Linked DNA regions of Homo sapiens: region 1 is linked to region 2. Evidence: fine-mapped expression QTL. Tissue or cell type: whole blood. Region 2 holds a variant in brackets; the other region holds the start of a gene. All regions are shown on one strand. Distances are from middle to middle.

What was found. PIP is the estimated chance that this variant, and not a neighbour inherited with it, causes the effect.
Region 1: BRD3 starts here. The variant in region 2 is fine-mapped to the expression of BRD3 in whole blood (TOPMed, PIP above 0.99).

Annotation. Positions count from the first base shown.
Region 1 is chr9:134,063,892-134,071,981 of GRCh38, forward strand. BRD3 (bromodomain containing 3) reads right to left here and starts at 4,135. Exons shown (of 12, transcript NM_007371.4): 1 at 4,054-4,135. RefSeq lists silencers at 3,581-3,830, 4,011-4,740.
Region 2 is chr9:134,015,649-134,023,747 of GRCh38, forward strand. No RefSeq gene overlaps it. Among named protein-coding and RNA genes, the nearest start is that of BRD3OS, 5.8 kb to the right of the region's middle. The variant C/T (reference allele first, on the strand shown) is at 3,984.

The DNA of each region.
Region 1 (8,090 bases), 48 kb after region 2:
GTGGCTGGAAAAGTTGTCTCCCACAATACCGGATTAACTTCTGACGAACTCAGTACCTTGGGGGCCTGCGGCAAGGAGGGGGGCGGGGGCATGTTCCACGCCCCATCTTCCCAACACCAGGCTCCGAAGGCCCTGTGAGGAGGCAGCCTGCGAACTGACTCTCAGGGAACAGCCACAGACTGGTGCGAGACGCAGACAGCCAACAGCACGGACACAACAGGGTCCGAGCCTCCAGCCACACGCACAGGTCCTGGCTCCACTGCGAGCTCAATCAGGAGTGGCCAGAAGACTTACAATTTAAACCACCAACAGGTGAATGGCCCAAAGTGACACTTTCTCTTTAAAAGAGCTCTCGGTCAGGCATGGTGGCTCACACCTGTAATCTCAGCACTTTGGGAGGCTGAGATGGGTGGATCACCTGAGGTCAGGAGTTCAAGACCAGCCCGGCCAACATGGCGAAACCCCATCTTTACTAAAAAATTAAAAAAAATTAAAAAAAATAGCCAGGCGTGGTGGCGGGCACCTGTAATCCCAGCTACTTGGCAGGCTGAGCCAGGGAGAATTGCTTGAACCCAGGAGGTGGAGGTTGCAGTGAAGGGAAATCATGCCATTACACACCAGCCTGGGCAACAGAGTGATACTCTGTCTCAAAATAAGTAAATAAATAAATGAGCTCTCAAGCATCTTGGCCGAGCATGGTGGCTCACGCTTGTAATCCCAGCACTTCAGGAGGCAGAGACGGGTGGGTCACTCACGGCCAAGAGTTTGAGACCAGCCTGGCCAACATGGTGAAACGCCATCTCTACTAAAAATACAAACAAACAAACAAATAAGCAAGCCCTCAAGCCTCTCAGATGGCAGGAGCCCAGGAACCAGAGCAGGGAGGCCCGGGCACAGGGGCCCATGATGTCTGTGCCCATGATTTCACAGGAAGGAGAATAGGCAAAGAAAACCCTATGCTCCGCCACCAGCTGGGCACCTCTACAAGGTGGCAGTACCAACAAAAACACAGGAGCAAGGCCATTCTTGGCAAACGCTGACCCAAATGCACCTGGCACCCCATCATGCTTTGCTACCTGTGCATCTCTTCTGCTCCAACAAGGGGGCGGAGCCACAGGGGTCGGGAAGGCCCAAGGCAGACCCGCAAGTTCCAAAACCTTTTACGGCAAGAAGCCTTGCATTCTACCATGATTCATCCAGTTACCTTCTAGCTTCAACCAGATACTGGCTTCGTGATATAAGGGACCTGCTGGCTAGGCACGGTGGCTCATGCCTGTAATCCCAGCACTTTGGGAGGCCAAGGCAGGTGGATCACGAGGTGAGGAGTTCGAGACCAGCCTGTCCAACACAGTGAAACCCTGTCTCTACTAAAAATACAAAAAATTAGCTGGGCGTGGTGGCGGACGCCTGTAATCCCAGCTACTTGGGAGGCTGAAGCAGGAGAATTGCTAGAACCCGGGAGGTAGAGGTTACAGTGGGCTGAGATCGTGCCACTGCACTCCAGCCTGGGCAACAATGCGAGACTCCATCTCAAGAGGAGAAGAGAAAAAAAAAAAAAAAGGAACCTGCCTAGGACAGGAACCCCGTCAGGTCAGTTATACTTTGATGACCGGTCAAGGAAGCAAGAGGAGGATCCTCTGACCAACTGCGTTAACTGCTTTGAAAACCAAGAGACCCGCAGCACGACTTCAGGCATGCCCCCACCTCCCAGGCAGCAACGCTGGGAAGAGTAGGCCCCGGTTCCCCATACCCCGCCCCGGTACCGTGTGTATCCACAGCAAAACATGGCTCTTCCCATCGACAACTGGGCATAGCTGTTGGTTTTGTGCCAATCACCCCACTTGGGAAACCCTGAGCCACCATGCCTCAGGGAAAGTGGTGGCACTTCCTGGTGGCACCAGGAATCGCACAAGGCCATCACTGCCGCCTGGTGCACAGGGCTCCCGCGGCTGGCATCTCCAGAGCCTGGAGGAAGAGGGTAGAGGAAGGTAGCACCGGCTGCAGCAGGCCTGGCTGCTTCGCTCTGCACACCCCCACTTTCACTTTCTGGGTATGACTACTTCGGAGTGTAGGGCAGGCACTGTTTGCAAGTCCCGTCCTTCATTCAAAGCTCACTCACTTCCGAAGCAGGCGCGAGCTGTTGTCAAAGGAAAGTAATTACTCTACTTTCTAAAAACAAAACAAAAATAAAAATGGAGTGACTGCCCACTCGGAGAAAGCTTTTGAAATCCCTCCTCCCCGGATGTCCCAACGGCAGGGCTCAGGCTGGAGCTGCTCCCACAGTCTTTCCAGGCACCCGGTGCCCTGCTGAGGCACCGGGCCTCTGAGGCTACCCGGAAGGTCAGAAAGAAATGCCCCTCGCTCGCCTGCAGCCCGTCCTGTTACAGCGTGTGCCTTATCTTTCATGATCAGTAACCACCAGCACCCATCAAGGCCTCAACAGAGAAAACGGCAAACACAGACCTTTATTTGCAAATGAGAGGCTGCATCAGGGCTGCCAGGGAAGAACCCGGAGGGAGGGCTCCCTAACCCCCGAGGCCAGCCCCTTGCAGGGGTTCAGACCTTCCTTAGACCCCGTTGGAAGCCAGTAACAAACTACTTTCCCCAGAAAAATGCCATACAACTTTGCATAGATTCCAGGATCTCCCCAGGCATACTACATGGACCCAGGAAAAAAAAAAAACCCTCCATTTTAAAGAAAAGAGTAAGGGGAAAAGCCTACAAAAGAGCAGGGTAAAAAGAAAACTCTTTTCCTCTTCTGTTCCTTCTCACAGGGTAGGGCGGGGGAGGACGGGACACACGAAGCTGCCTCTTGCAGTTCCAGCCCAATTACTCTGCCCACCAATGCACTACAGTCTCCCCTCCTGGTTAACTTTTGCAGACAATGACCAAGTTTAATGTAAGGGGGAGAAATCCCAGTATCTATTTCTGAGCAGAAAGCTTTCAACCAAAATTAAAGATCGCAACCACTCAAGGATTGGGTCGAACGGAGGAACCCACACGATGGACGCCGGGTCCCTGCCCCCGGTGGGTCTCGGCGGGCCGAGTTCTCGCCCTCCAGGGAAAGGAGGCCGCGCGAAGCCCCCATCCCGGCCCTGCCCCCGAACGAGCAACCGGTGGAATAAGACTTCCCGCACGCCCCAGCTTTATTCACAGAGAGCCCACCAGGGCCATGTGGGTGTACACGGTTCGGGGTGCGCATTTCTCCCCGGATGGGCTTGTATCACGTTGTCACTCCGGCGCCCCCCAAAAGTGGGAAGGAGGGGAAGCACCCCCGTCCCTCCCGCTCCAACTCGCCCTCGCCCGGATTAAGCGATTTTCAGGCTGATTTCAAAACGGGAACTGGGTCTCCCCCTGGTTTGGGTGCAATAATCCGGCAACTCAGGGGGGCTCAAAGTCAGCTCTGGGCCCGTAACTCTGGGAGGAGGCCGCGCAGAGCCCAGGGCCGAGCCCGGCCTTGCCCCCCGCCCCGGCCGCGGCGCGCGGCGACGGTCCCCAGGCGCGGGCCCCAGCAACGGCTCGGGAGCGAGGCCGGCGGAACAGGCGCGGGGAAAGTGGCCCCGCGGAGCGCACGGCCGCAGGCCGGGGCCGCCGCGCGCACCTTCCCCCTCCGCGTCCTCCCTGGGTTCCCCCTTCGAAAGATGGCGGGCGGAGGAAAGGGGGAAAAAAATCCCTTCCGTGAGGGAGGGCGCGCGGAGGCCGGGCTGGCGCGGGGCGCGCGGGCCGCGCCAACTCCGGGCTGCGCGCCCCGGCCGCAGCGACGCCCCGAGTCCGGGACGGAGGCGGCCAAGCGGGAGCGGGAGGAGGGGAGCGGAGCCCGCGCCACCGCCGCCGCCACCGCCGCCGCGACCCCGGGCGGCCGCCGCGCTTTGTTGCATCGTGGCCGCGCACAAAGGCGGCGGCGGCGGCGGCGGCCCCGGGCGCCCGGTTCACCCGGACGCGCCGGCGGACTGCGCGGGGCGCTCGGGGCCGCGCTCCCCGGCCCAGCCCGGCCCGCCGCCGCCCGCGCCGCCCGCCGCCCCGCGCGCGCAAGGAAGCAAGAGAAAGGCGTACTTGGCCTCGCGGCTCCGGCGGCCGTCCCCTCCCGGCCCGCGCGGCCGGCTCCTCTTTGGCTCGCCGGCCCCGGCAGCATAATAGACGCGCCGGAGCCGAGCAGGGCTCATGCGCTGCGCCGCGGCGCCTGGCGGGAGTCGTAGTCCGCGGCCGGGCCCGCGCCGGGGCCGCCCAGGGGAGGCCGCGGGCGCGCGGACTACATGTCCCGGCCCCGCCGGCGCCGCGCCCCGCCCCGGGGGCCCCCGCCCGCCCCGCCGACCCGGCCGAGAGCGGGCCTGGCCCGGGGGGCGCGCGGGGGCGGGGCTCGGCGCCCGCCCGGCAGGGCAACAACGCTGGGACCCCGTGGGCCGTTCCCCGCCCGGGCCCGCACGGCTCTCCTCACCCCGTGTCGGGGACAGCGCCTGGCGGCGGATTTTCCGGTGCCCCAGGACGGCATGGAAGAAGCGGGCACGCAGCCAGCACCGCAGCCCCCGTCCGGGCACCCCGAGGCCCGCGGGAGCCACCCTCGAACCCCGGCCGCGCACGGGCGGGGCGGCGCGCACCTGCCGGGAGCCCGTGTTTGTAAACAAACCGCGCGCCTAATTAGCCTGGCGGGAGCGCGCGCGCGGGGCGGGGGGCGGGGCGTCGGTGCGCGCGGGCAGGTCGGCCCCGCCCGGGGAGGAGCCGCGCTCTGCCGCGCCCTCCGTGTCACCATCTCCCCCACCCGACTTGCTGGGGCGCGGGCGCCCAAGTTCGCTGTTGCTGGAGAGGGCGCCAAGTCCCCAGAGCTGGCGAAGAGTTAGGGGTGCTCCCAGCTCTGCCTGGGGACCTTCTCGCCCCAAGCCCCGGTTTCCCCATCTGCCCAGTGAGGGGCGGGAACTAGATACCAGGTTCCCAGCCTGAGATTCCGGGAGAGGGCCACCCCTGGCCCTTTTTCTGTATCTTGAAAGGTTCAGCCCGTGGACACGTTTTGCATCTTGTTTTGGGTGATGACGACTCGGGTTTACACATAAATCAAGTTGTGGGGGGGGGGGTTTTGTTGTTTTTTTGGTTTTTGTTTTTTTTTTTTTTTTTTGAGACGTTAGTTTCGCTCTTGTCACCCAGGCTGGAGTGCTGTAGTGTAGTGAGTGGCTCGATCTCGGCTCACTGCAACGTCCGCCTCCCGGGTTCAAGCCATTCTCCTGGCTCAGCCTCCCGAGTAGCTGAGATTACAGGCACCCGCCACCACGCCCGGCTAATTTTTGTATTTTTTAGTAGAGATGGGGTTTCACCGTGTTGACTGGGCTGTTCTCAAACTCCTGACGTGAGATGATCCGCCCACCGCGGACTCCCAAAGTGCTGGGATTACAAGCGTGAGCCAACGCACCCGGCCACATAAATCAATTTTAATCCAGCTGTAACTTAAGGTGGTTACACGTTGTGTACATTAGACCCCAATAAAAACGTCAAAAACAAAACGAGGTTCCTTGGTGCCTGCTGAACCTGCCAACTGCAAGGTCGAGTTTCCTTGTGTGGGCTGCACCCACCCCAAGCCCCTGGGGTCCCCAGGTGTGTTCCAAGTTGAGCAGCAGCTCCACTGCCTGAAATGCACACATCTATGCAATATTCACAAAGTGAGTGCCAGCACAGAGACAATTCATCCCCATGCTCACCCAGAAGGCAGGTGTTCTGTTCCAGGCTGACAGGTAAGGAAACAGGCTCAGTGAGGCAAAGGGTCCTGCCCAAGGTCACAGAGCCAATTTGCAGGACGGCTGAGACCCAAAGCCCCGGGGTCTTAGGAAGAGTTTGCAGGGGAAGCCAACACCTTTCCCAATCCTGTCCCTCTGTTTCTGCTGGGAGCCCAGGACCTTCTCACACTCCAGGGCAAGGCTCTAGGACGAGGTTCCAGCCTTGCCTTTCTAGTTGGCAAAATGGACAAAGTGCAGTCCTCAGGCGCAGGAAGGTCGGGGAGGGGGAATATGAGAGGTGAGGATCTGCAGGCAGTTCCCTTAGAACTACCATCCTGGTTGTGTCCCCAAACCCCCGGTGCAGTTCCTCAACCTACAGGCTTCTGTGTTAGCCACCTTGGAGGCTGCAACCCATTCCTGCTGTCTGCATCTCATCTCCTTGGGTATCTTGAGCACTCTGACCACCAGGATGGCCACCTCACCACTTACACAGACCCCACTGCACTCCTCCCAAGGCTAGAACAAAAAGCCTTTCCGCCTGGTCTTGACCTCAAGGAACCCAGGTACATGCACACAGCAGGCTGCCCTGACCAGCCAGCGTGTCTGAGGCTGCTGACCAAATGCCCCCAACCCTTATGGGCCTCCCACTGCCCTAAGGTGACCCCCAGGAGTATGGCAGGAACCCAGGCGCTCCCTGGGCACTGGCTCTGATGGAAGCACCAAGGTCCCCTTCTTTCCCTTCCCGCTGCTCACCCACACATGAGTGGCCCGGATGGCTCCATGGAGCCAACTTTCCCGAGGCTGGAGAAGTCTCTAGGAAGCAGAATCTGTAAGGGAACAGGACAGAAACTCTCATTTGAGCATCTCAGCCCCTGTGCTACTATCTCTGAAGACTAGTTTAGGGGCCACAGTGGCAAACAGCTGAAAGCCAGCAGGGCTGCCATTGAGAAGGGATTTGGGGTGGCTCTGCAGTCCCCTCCAGCCCCTAGCAGCCCATCATCCTCTCCCTTCCTGCTCAGGCTCTTGGAATTTTAACCTCTGGTACTGCTGAATTTCCCAAGTGAAGCCACTTAATCTCCCCGACCCAGGTTTCCTCCCCTGTCACAGGAGGATAAAAATAGAACCTGATCCCGCAGCTCTGGTAAGGGAGGGGGGCATGTGCAAAGGTTGGGGCTGTGATCAGGAGCAGGCTGCTGCCTTTGCCTCCTTGGCCATCACTCACCTCTCTACCTTCACGTTTTACTTCCTGAGCCTCCTTGTGGGCTGTCTCACGGCTCCATGAGAGCAGAGCACTTTGTCCATGAGGTATCCCTAAACATCCTTCAACAGTATCTGGCACCTAGTGGGTGCTCAATACATAGTTGTTGAATGAATAAATGTTCTCTTCTGCACCTCTGTCCTGCCCTCCAGCCTCCATCTGCAAACCTCAGTGTAGCCCAAGCTCTACCAGTGAAGCAGCCACCTGCTCACATCTAAAGGAGGACCCAGAGCCAGGCTCCAGCCAGTACAGGAGCCAGGGCCTCAGCTGCCTCCTCCTCCTTCACCCACAATGCCCCTTAAGGCAGCAGTCCCCAGCCTTTTTGGCAACAGGGACCAGTTTCATGGAAGACAATTTTTCCACGGATGAGTGGGGGCAGATAATGGTTTTGGCATGAAACTGTTCCGCCTCAGATCATCAGGCATTAGATTCTCATAAGGAGCTCACAACCTAGATCCCTCACGTGCGCAGTTCAGAGTACGGTTTGCGCTCCTGTGAGAATCTGATGCAGCTGCTGATCTGACAGGAGCCGGAGCGCAGGCGGGAATGCTGGCTCACAAGTACTCACCTCCTGCTGTGTGGCCCCGTTCCTAACAGGCCACGGACCAGTAACAGTCCAAGGCCCAGGGGTTGGGAATCCTGCCTTAAGGCGCAGAGCAGTTACATCATGGCACTGAAGTTTATACATCAGTTTCTTGAAAGTTTCATTATCATGTGTCTTTCCCCAGGACTGACCAGCTCTCAGCACAACTTTTTAAGAAAATGAATTTCTGTCTCCACCAAGCAGAGGCTGGGCTACAGAGAACTCTGGAGGGTGGAGGAGCAGAGGTTTTTAATTATACAATAATTTAGTGCCTACTATGTGCCAGGCCCTGTGTCAAGAGCCTTATGTACACCATTTTACTGAATCCTGGAACAGTTCTATGACGTAGGGATGATTATGTCTACTTTACAGGTGAAAATGGAGGCAAAGTTAGGTTAAATTACTAGCCTGAGCCATGAACCCAAATGTGGGTTCATATTTCATTTACAAAATATATTCCAGAAGACTGCACCTTGGTAGGGGAAGGTGAGGCATTTAACTTGAGGAAGCAAATGCCCAGATCTAAGTTCATTAAACTTCTCTTAGAAAA
Region 2 (8,099 bases):
CGTGTGGTCTGTGACAATTAATGAACCAATATTGATACATTATTATTAATTCAAGTGCATACTTTAGTCAGATGTCTATAGTTGGTATCTTTTTTAAATTTAAATAGTGAGGTTTCCATTCATAAAATTTCTCCATTTAAAGTTTTTGTGCCAGCCGGGCACGGTGGCTCATGCCTGTAATCCCAGCACTTTGGGAGGCTGAGGTGGGCGGATCACCTGAGGTTGGGAGTTTGAGACCAGCCTGACCAACGTGGAGAAACCCCGTCTCTACTAAAAATCCAAAATTAGCCGGGCATGGTGGCACATGCCTGTAATCCCAGCTACTCAGGCGGCTGACGCAGGAGAATCACTTGAACCTGGGAGGCGGAGGTTGCAGTGAGCCGAGATCGCACCATTGCACTCCAGCCTGGGCAACAAGAGCAAAACTCTGTCTCAAAAAAATAATAATAGTAAAATAAAATAAAGTATTTGTGAAGTCCTGAATATTCCTAGGTATTTTTTAATTTTTCATTTGTGGGGGTACATAGTAGATACATATACTTATGGGGTATATGAGATGTTTTGACGCAGGCAATGTGGAATAACCACATCGTGGAGAATGGGGCATCCATCCCCATTTCCAGGTATTTGATATATTTTGAAATTATTGTAAATGGTATCTTTTTTTTTTTTGAGACAGAATTTCACTCTTGTTGCCCAGGCTGGAGTGCAATGGTGCAATCTCGGCTCACTGCAACCTCCACCTCCTGGGTTGAAGCGATTCTCCTGCCTCAGCCTCCCAACCAGCAGCGATTACAGGCATGCACCACCATGCCCAGCTAACTTTTTATATTTAGTAGAAACAGGGTTTCACCATGTTGGTCAGGCTGGTCTCAAACTGCCGACCTCAGGTGATCTGCCTGCCTTGGCCTCCCAAAGTACTGGGATTACAGGCGTGAGCCACCACGCCTGGCCTGTAAATGGTATCTTTTAAACACTTGTTTTCTGCTTTTTGCTGTCATTTAGAACAGTAGTTGACTCTGTAGATTAATTTTCCATCAAGCAACCTTGTGTCAACCTTGTTGATGGAAAAAAAAAAAGCTGTGAAATATTTAAAGAAGTTTATTCTGAGCCAATGAGTGACCATGGTCCAGAAAACAGTCTCAAGAGGTCTGGAGAAAGTGCAGTCGAGGTGGTTGGGTTACAGTTTGGTTTTATACATTTTAGAGAGACAGGATATATAGGTAAAATTATAAATCAATACATGGAAGTTTACATTGGTTCAGCCTAAAGAGGTGGGAGGTCTTGAAGCTGAGGGGGGCTTACAGATCATAAGCAGATTCAAAGAATTTCTGATTGACAACTGGTTGAAAGAGTTAAGCTTTGTCTAAAGACTTGAAGTCAGTAGAAAGAAATGCTTGAGTTGGCTGGGTGTGGTGGCTCAAGTCTATAATCCCAGCACTTTGTGAGGTGGAGGTGGGCGATCACCTGAGGTCAGGAGTTCGAGACCAGCCTTGCCAACATGGTGAAACCCCATCTCTACTAAAAATACAAAAATATGCTGGGCATGGTGGCACACGCCTGTGATCCCAGCTACTTGGGAGGCTGAGGCAGGACAATAGCTTGAACCCGGGAGGCAGAGGTTGCAGTGAGCCGAAATCACGCTACTGCACTCCAGCCTGAGCAACAGAGTGAAACTCTATCTCAAAAAAAAAAAAAAAAAAAAAATGCTTGAGTTAAGATAAGGGGATTATGGACACCGAGGTTCTTATTATGTAGATGAAGCCTCCAAGTAGCAGCCTTAGAGATAATAGAGGGTGAATGTCTCTTCTCAGACCCTAAAGGTGTTAGACCAAGCTTGTCCAACCTGTGGTCCATGGGTCACAAGAGGCCCAGCACAGCTTTGAATGTGGCCCAACACAAATTCACAAATTTTCTTAAAATATAATGAGATTTTTTTGTGATTTTTTTTAAGCTCATCAGCTATTGTTAGTGTTAGTGTATTTTATGCATGGCCCAAGATAATTCTTCTTCTTCCAACGTGGCCTAGGGATTCCACAAGATAGGACCCCCCTGGCCGGGCGTGGTGGCTCACGCCTGCAATCCCAGCACTTTGGGAGGCCGAGGCGGGCAGATCACAAAGTCAGGAGATCGAGACCATCCTGGCTAACACAGTGAAACCCCGTCTCTACTAAAAATACAAAAAATTAGCCGGGCATGGTGGTGGGCGCCTGCAGTCCCAGCTACTTGGGAGGCTGAGGCAGGAGAATGGCGTGAACCCAGGAGGCAGAGTTTGCAGTGAGCAGAGATCACGTCACTGCACTCCAGCCTGGGCGACAGAGACTCTGTCTCAAAAAAAAAAAAAAAAAAAAGATCAGACCCACCTGTATTAGACTCTCATTTAATTTCTCCTAAATCCGGGAAACGCCTAGAAAGGAAAGGCCAGGCTCCTAATAGAGATTCTTTACAGATGCAAATTTCCCCCACAGAAGACGGCTTTGCAGGGCCATTCCAAAATATGTCAAAGAAATGTATTTGGGGGCTGGGCACGGTGGCTCATGTCTGTAACCCCAGCACTTTGGGAGGCCGAAGCCAGTGGATCACCTGAAGTCAGGAGTTCGAGATCAGCCTGACCAATATGGTGAAACCCCGTCTGTACTAAAAATACAAAAATTAGCTGGGCGTGGTGGCGGGCGCCTGTAATCCCAGCTACTCAGGAGGCTGAGGCAGGGGAACTGCTTGAACCTGGTGGTGGAGATTGCAGTGAGCCAAGATCGTGGCACTGCACTCCAGCCTGGGCGACAGAGCGAGACTCCATCTCAAAAAAATAAAGAAATATATTTTGAGGTAAAATATTTTCCTTTCCTTCAGGGTCTGCTATCTGTCATGTGGTGCTATACAAGGGTCTGGTTGGAATTTGGTATCTTGTTGCCATAAAGAGTCTGTTTTGGCAGGGCGCGGGGGCTCACGCCTGTAATCCCAGTACTTTGGGAGGCCAAGGCAGGTGGATCACGAGGTCAAGAGATCGAGACCATCCTGGCCAACATGTTGAAACCCCATCTCTAGTAAAAATACAAAAATTATCTGGGCATGGTGGCGCACGCCTGTAGTCCCAGCTACTCGGGAGGCTGAGGCAGAAGAATCGCTTGAACCCAGGAGGCAGAGGTTGCAGTGAGCTGAGATCACGCCACTGCACTCCAGCCTGGCAACAGAGACTCTGTCTCAAAAAAAAAAAAAAAGTCTGTTTTGTCAGTCTCACGACCTCTATTTTAATGATGCTGGCCAGTGGTGCCTAAACTCCAAAAGGGAGAGGGGAGAACGAGACATGTCCAGCCTCCCTTCTTGTCATGGCCAGGAATGCTGTTTTTCAGGTTTCTCTGGGGTCCCCTTAGCCAAGAAGGGGTCTGTTCAGTCCACCAGGGGCTTAGGATTTTTATTTATTTATTTATTTTTTTAAAGCTTTTTTTTTTTTTTTTTTTTGAGACGGAGTTTCACTCGTCTCCCAGGCTGGAGTGCAATGGTGTGATCTCGGCTCATTGCAACCTCCACCTCCCGGGTTCAAGCAATTCTCCTGTCCCAGCCTCCCAAGTAGCTGGGATTACAGGTGCCCGCCACCACACCCAGCTAATTTTTGTATTTTTAGTAGAGACAGGGTTTCATCATATTGGTCAGGCTGGTCTCAAACTCCTGACCTCAGGTGACCTGCCCACCTTGGCCTCCCAAAGTACTGAGATTACAGGCGTGAGCCACCGTGCCTGGCCCTTAAAACTTTTTTGAGATAGGGTCTCACTCTGTCGCCAAGGCTGGAGTACAGTGGTGCAACCACAGCTCACTGCAGCCTTGACCTCTCGGGCTCAAGCATTGCTCCCACTTTAGCCTCCCAAGTAACTGGGACTTCAGGTACACACCATCATGCCTGGCTAATTTTTTGTATTTTTATTTAAAAAGGGGTTTTACCATGCTGCCCAGGCTGATCTTGAACTCCTGGGCTCAAGCAATCCACC[C/T]GCCTTGGCCTCCCAAAATGTTGGGATTACAGGCATGAGCCAACATGGCTGGCCAGGATTTTATTTTTGGTTTGCAACCTAAAAGGAAGAAGCTGAGGAAAAATTAATGTAAGTAGAGAGTTTATTTGGGCCAAGCTTGAGGGCTGCAACCCGGAGCATGCAAGTTGCCCTGAACATCCACTCCAGTTAGTAGCGGTTACTAGAGGATTTTTAAAGGAAAAGAAGGGGAGTTCCTGAATTGTTTACCAAAAATTTACATTAAAATAACAAGCTATTGATTGGCTATCCATTGTTTTTTATACACATATTCCAGGAACATGAAGACAATGGGTGGGGCAGCTAGACAGGAACAAAAAGACTTTTTTTTTTCCTTTGAGACGCAGTCTGTCTCTGTTGCCCAGGCTGGAGTGCAGTGGCGCAATCTCAGCTCACTGCAACCTCCGCCTCCCGGGCTCAAGCGATTCTCCTGCCTCAGCCTCCCCAGTAGCTGGGATTACAGGCACCCACCACTACGCCTGGTTAATTCTTTGTATTTTTAGTAGAGACAGGGTTTCACTATGTTGGCCAGGCTGGTCTCCAACTCCTGACCTCGTGATCCACCCGCCTCAGCCTCCCAAAGTGCTAGGATTACAGGTGTGAGCCACCTCGCCCAGCCCTGTCTTATTAATTTTAATAATTTGTCTGAGATTCTCCTGAATTTGTACTGTTAATTGAAAAAAGAACCCCACAATATCCATAAATACTCTGTTGCCCAGGCTGGAGTACAGTGATGCAATCATGACTCGCTGCGACCGCTGCCTCCTGGGCTCAAGCAACCCTCCTGCCTCAGCCTCCCAGGTAGCTGGGACTATAGGTGCCTTTCACCATGCCCAGGTACTTTTTGTAGAAATGGGGTTTTGCCATGTTGGCCAGGCTGGTCTTGAACTCCTGAGTTTAAGTGATCTGCCCGCCTTGGCCTCCCAAATTGCTGGGACTACAGGTGTGAGCCACTGCGCCTGGGTGACTTTCTTTCTCATAAAGGGTTACAGCCAGCAAGGTGGCCATCCCACAGGCTGGAAAATGTGCCTCTGAAGGAGGAGGGGTTGGGGCAGGAGCTCCATGCTGAACAGGTTGGCTAAACATACACATTCAACAGGTTATAGGAGGAGCTATGAATATTCATGAAGGTCCTGACAACATGCATACTGAACAAACATGCATGTAACATACAACTCATGTTCACCTTGGGGTGGAGACTTAGCATCAAAATGTACTAAAATTAGGCCTTATAGGCTGGGTGCAGTGGCTCGCGCCTGTAATCCCAGCACTTTGGGAGGCTGAGGTCTGGCCAATACGGTGAAACCCAGTCTCTACTAAAAATAAAAAAAAAACTAGCTGGGCACCGTGGTGCACACCTGTAGTCTTAGCTACTTGGGAGGCTGAGGCAGGAGAATCACTTGAACCCAGGAGGCGGAGGTTGCAGTGAGCCGAGATGGCACCACAGCACTCCAGCCTGGGCAATAGTGGGAGACTCCGTCTCAAATAAATAAAAATATATACATACATAAAATAAAATTAGGCCTTATAGTAAAAAGGTCTTTCCAGGACACAAAAGCACACAAGTATGCAGCCTCTCTGAACCAGCCGGAACCAATCCATAGTCAGTGGTCTTACCTGGAGAAAGTTGCTGAAATCAGTCTCTTGTTCAATGAAAGCTGTAGTTGGCTGGGCATAGTGGCTCACACCTGTAGTCCCAGCACTTTGGGAGGCCACGATGGGAGGATTGTTTAAGCCCAGGAATTTGAGATCAGCCTAGGCAACATGGCAAAACCCCATCTCTACCAAAAATACAAAAAGTAGCTGGGTGCAAACTCCACCTCCCGGGTGGACCTACTGGTACACCTAGTGGTGCACACCTGTAGGCCCAGCTACTTGGGAGGCTGAGGTGGGAGGATTGCTTGAGGCTGGGAGGTTGAAGCTGCACTCAGCCAGGATTGCACCACTGCACTCTAGCCTGGAGGACAGAGTGAGACGCTGTTTCAAAAGAAGAGAAAGCTAGTTATGGTGGGTGAATGGGGTCAGTTAGCATCTGGAGCTGGATGAGCTGCAAATCGTTTTAACATTGTTTATCTTGAGGTCAGTACTTACTTAGCTGCTAGAGAAAAGGAACAACCTCGTGGCAGTGAGAATAGAGTTTATTCTTTAATTGTAGAGGTGTAGGACTTAACTTGTGCCTGGCATGGCCCTAAATCTTATTAATTAATTAATTTATTTATTTTTGGAATCAGAGTCTCACTTTGTCACCCAGACTGGAGTGCAGTTGTGCCATCTTGGCTCACTGCAACCTCCACCTCCTGGGTTCAAGTGGTTTTCCTGCCTCAGCCTCCCAAGTAGCTGGGATTACAGGCATGCGCCACTATGTCCAGCTAATTTTTGTATTTTTTGTAGAGATGGGGGTTCACCATGTTGGCCAGGCTGGTCTCGAACTCTCAGCCTCAAGTGATCTGCCCGCCTTGGACTCTCAAAGTGCTGGGATTACAGATGTGAGTCACCATGCCCAGCCACAGGTCTTATTTATAATTTGGTATGTTATCGCCATAAAGAGTCTGTTTTTCAGTCTTCTATGTTTTCAGTCTTACATATTTTAACGCAAATGCTAGTGCCTTGTCTCTAAGTCACCAAAGGGAGGAGTTATAACGACATGAGTGGGCTCTCCTATCCCATCGTGGCTGGGAACTCAGTTTTAAGTTTTTTCTGAGGTCCCCTTGGCCAAGAGGGGATCCGTTCAGTCAGTGAGGAGTTTAGGATTTTATTTTTAGTTTATATTCCCTTCTTTTGGCCAAGATTTGCCAGAGATGGCATTGATGACCAAACTTTTATTTTGTCCTATATCGTTGCTGGGGCTGTGTGCTACCTGCACTGGGTCCATCTTGTCCCTTGGTGGGATCCCTATGGCCAAGAGACTTAGAGCCAAAAGACTGAAAGACAGCTAATTAAATGTTTTAGGACAGATAGGAAAGGAGATGGGCAGGCACTCATTCACCCTTAAAAACCTTTTGTGCAGCCAGGTGCGGTGGCTTATGCCTGTAATCCTAGCACTTTGGGAGTCTGAGGCGGGTGGATCACGAGGTCAGGAGTTTGAGACCAGCCTGATCAACATAGTGAAACCCTGTCTCCACTAAAAATACAAAATGAGCCAGGCATGGTGGCACATGCCTGTAACCCTAGCTACTCGGGAGGCTGAGGCAGGAGAATCACTTGAACCTGGGAGGCGGAGGTTGCAGTGAGCTGAGATTGCACCATTGTACTCCGGTCTGGGCGACAGAGCGAGATTCCATCTCAAAAAAATCAAAATAAAACAAACAACAACAACAACAAAAAACAACCTTTTGTGCAACATAAGAGGCAAAAACCAAAATCCAAAACGTGAGGTTACAAAATTGACTTATCTCTAAGTTTTATGTATTGAGCTATCAGCTATTTAGGTATTTGTGAACCATCTTTGATTCAGAGGGTCTGAACAAATTTTATCCCTCGAAACCAGCCCTTACAATCTCATGCGTTTACCTCTTCTGCAATTGTCCCTGGGCCTAGAGGGAGGGTGTTTGATATCAAATCAGATTGGAGCCAATGGGATTTTAAATCATTTTCAGATTCTGGAGATATCAGGTAGAAAAAGAGAGGTAATCTTCATTTTTTACTTAATTGTTGTAGCTATAAAATAGCTTAAAAGGAAAAACAGCTTTTTGACTCTGGAAAACAAAACATAAGTAAATGTTTCGAACAGAAATATAAGTCCTATTTGGTTTTGACAACGACAGGAAAAGGAAGCTTACAGGTAACTAAATATTCAAATTATTTAGTTCAAGGCATAGAACAAATTATATTAGCTTAGAGGCAATTTTTTTTTTTTTTTTTTGAGATGGGGTCTCACTCTGTCACCCAAGCTGGAGTGCAATGGTGCAATCTCAGCTCACTGCAACCTCCGCCTCCTGGGTTCAAGAGATTCTCCTGCCTCAGCCTCCTGAGTAGCTGGGATTACAGGCGCCTGCCACCACACTGGGCTAATTTTTTATATTTTTGGTAGAGACAGGGTTTCATCATGTTGGCTAGGCTGGTCTCGAACTCCTGACCTCA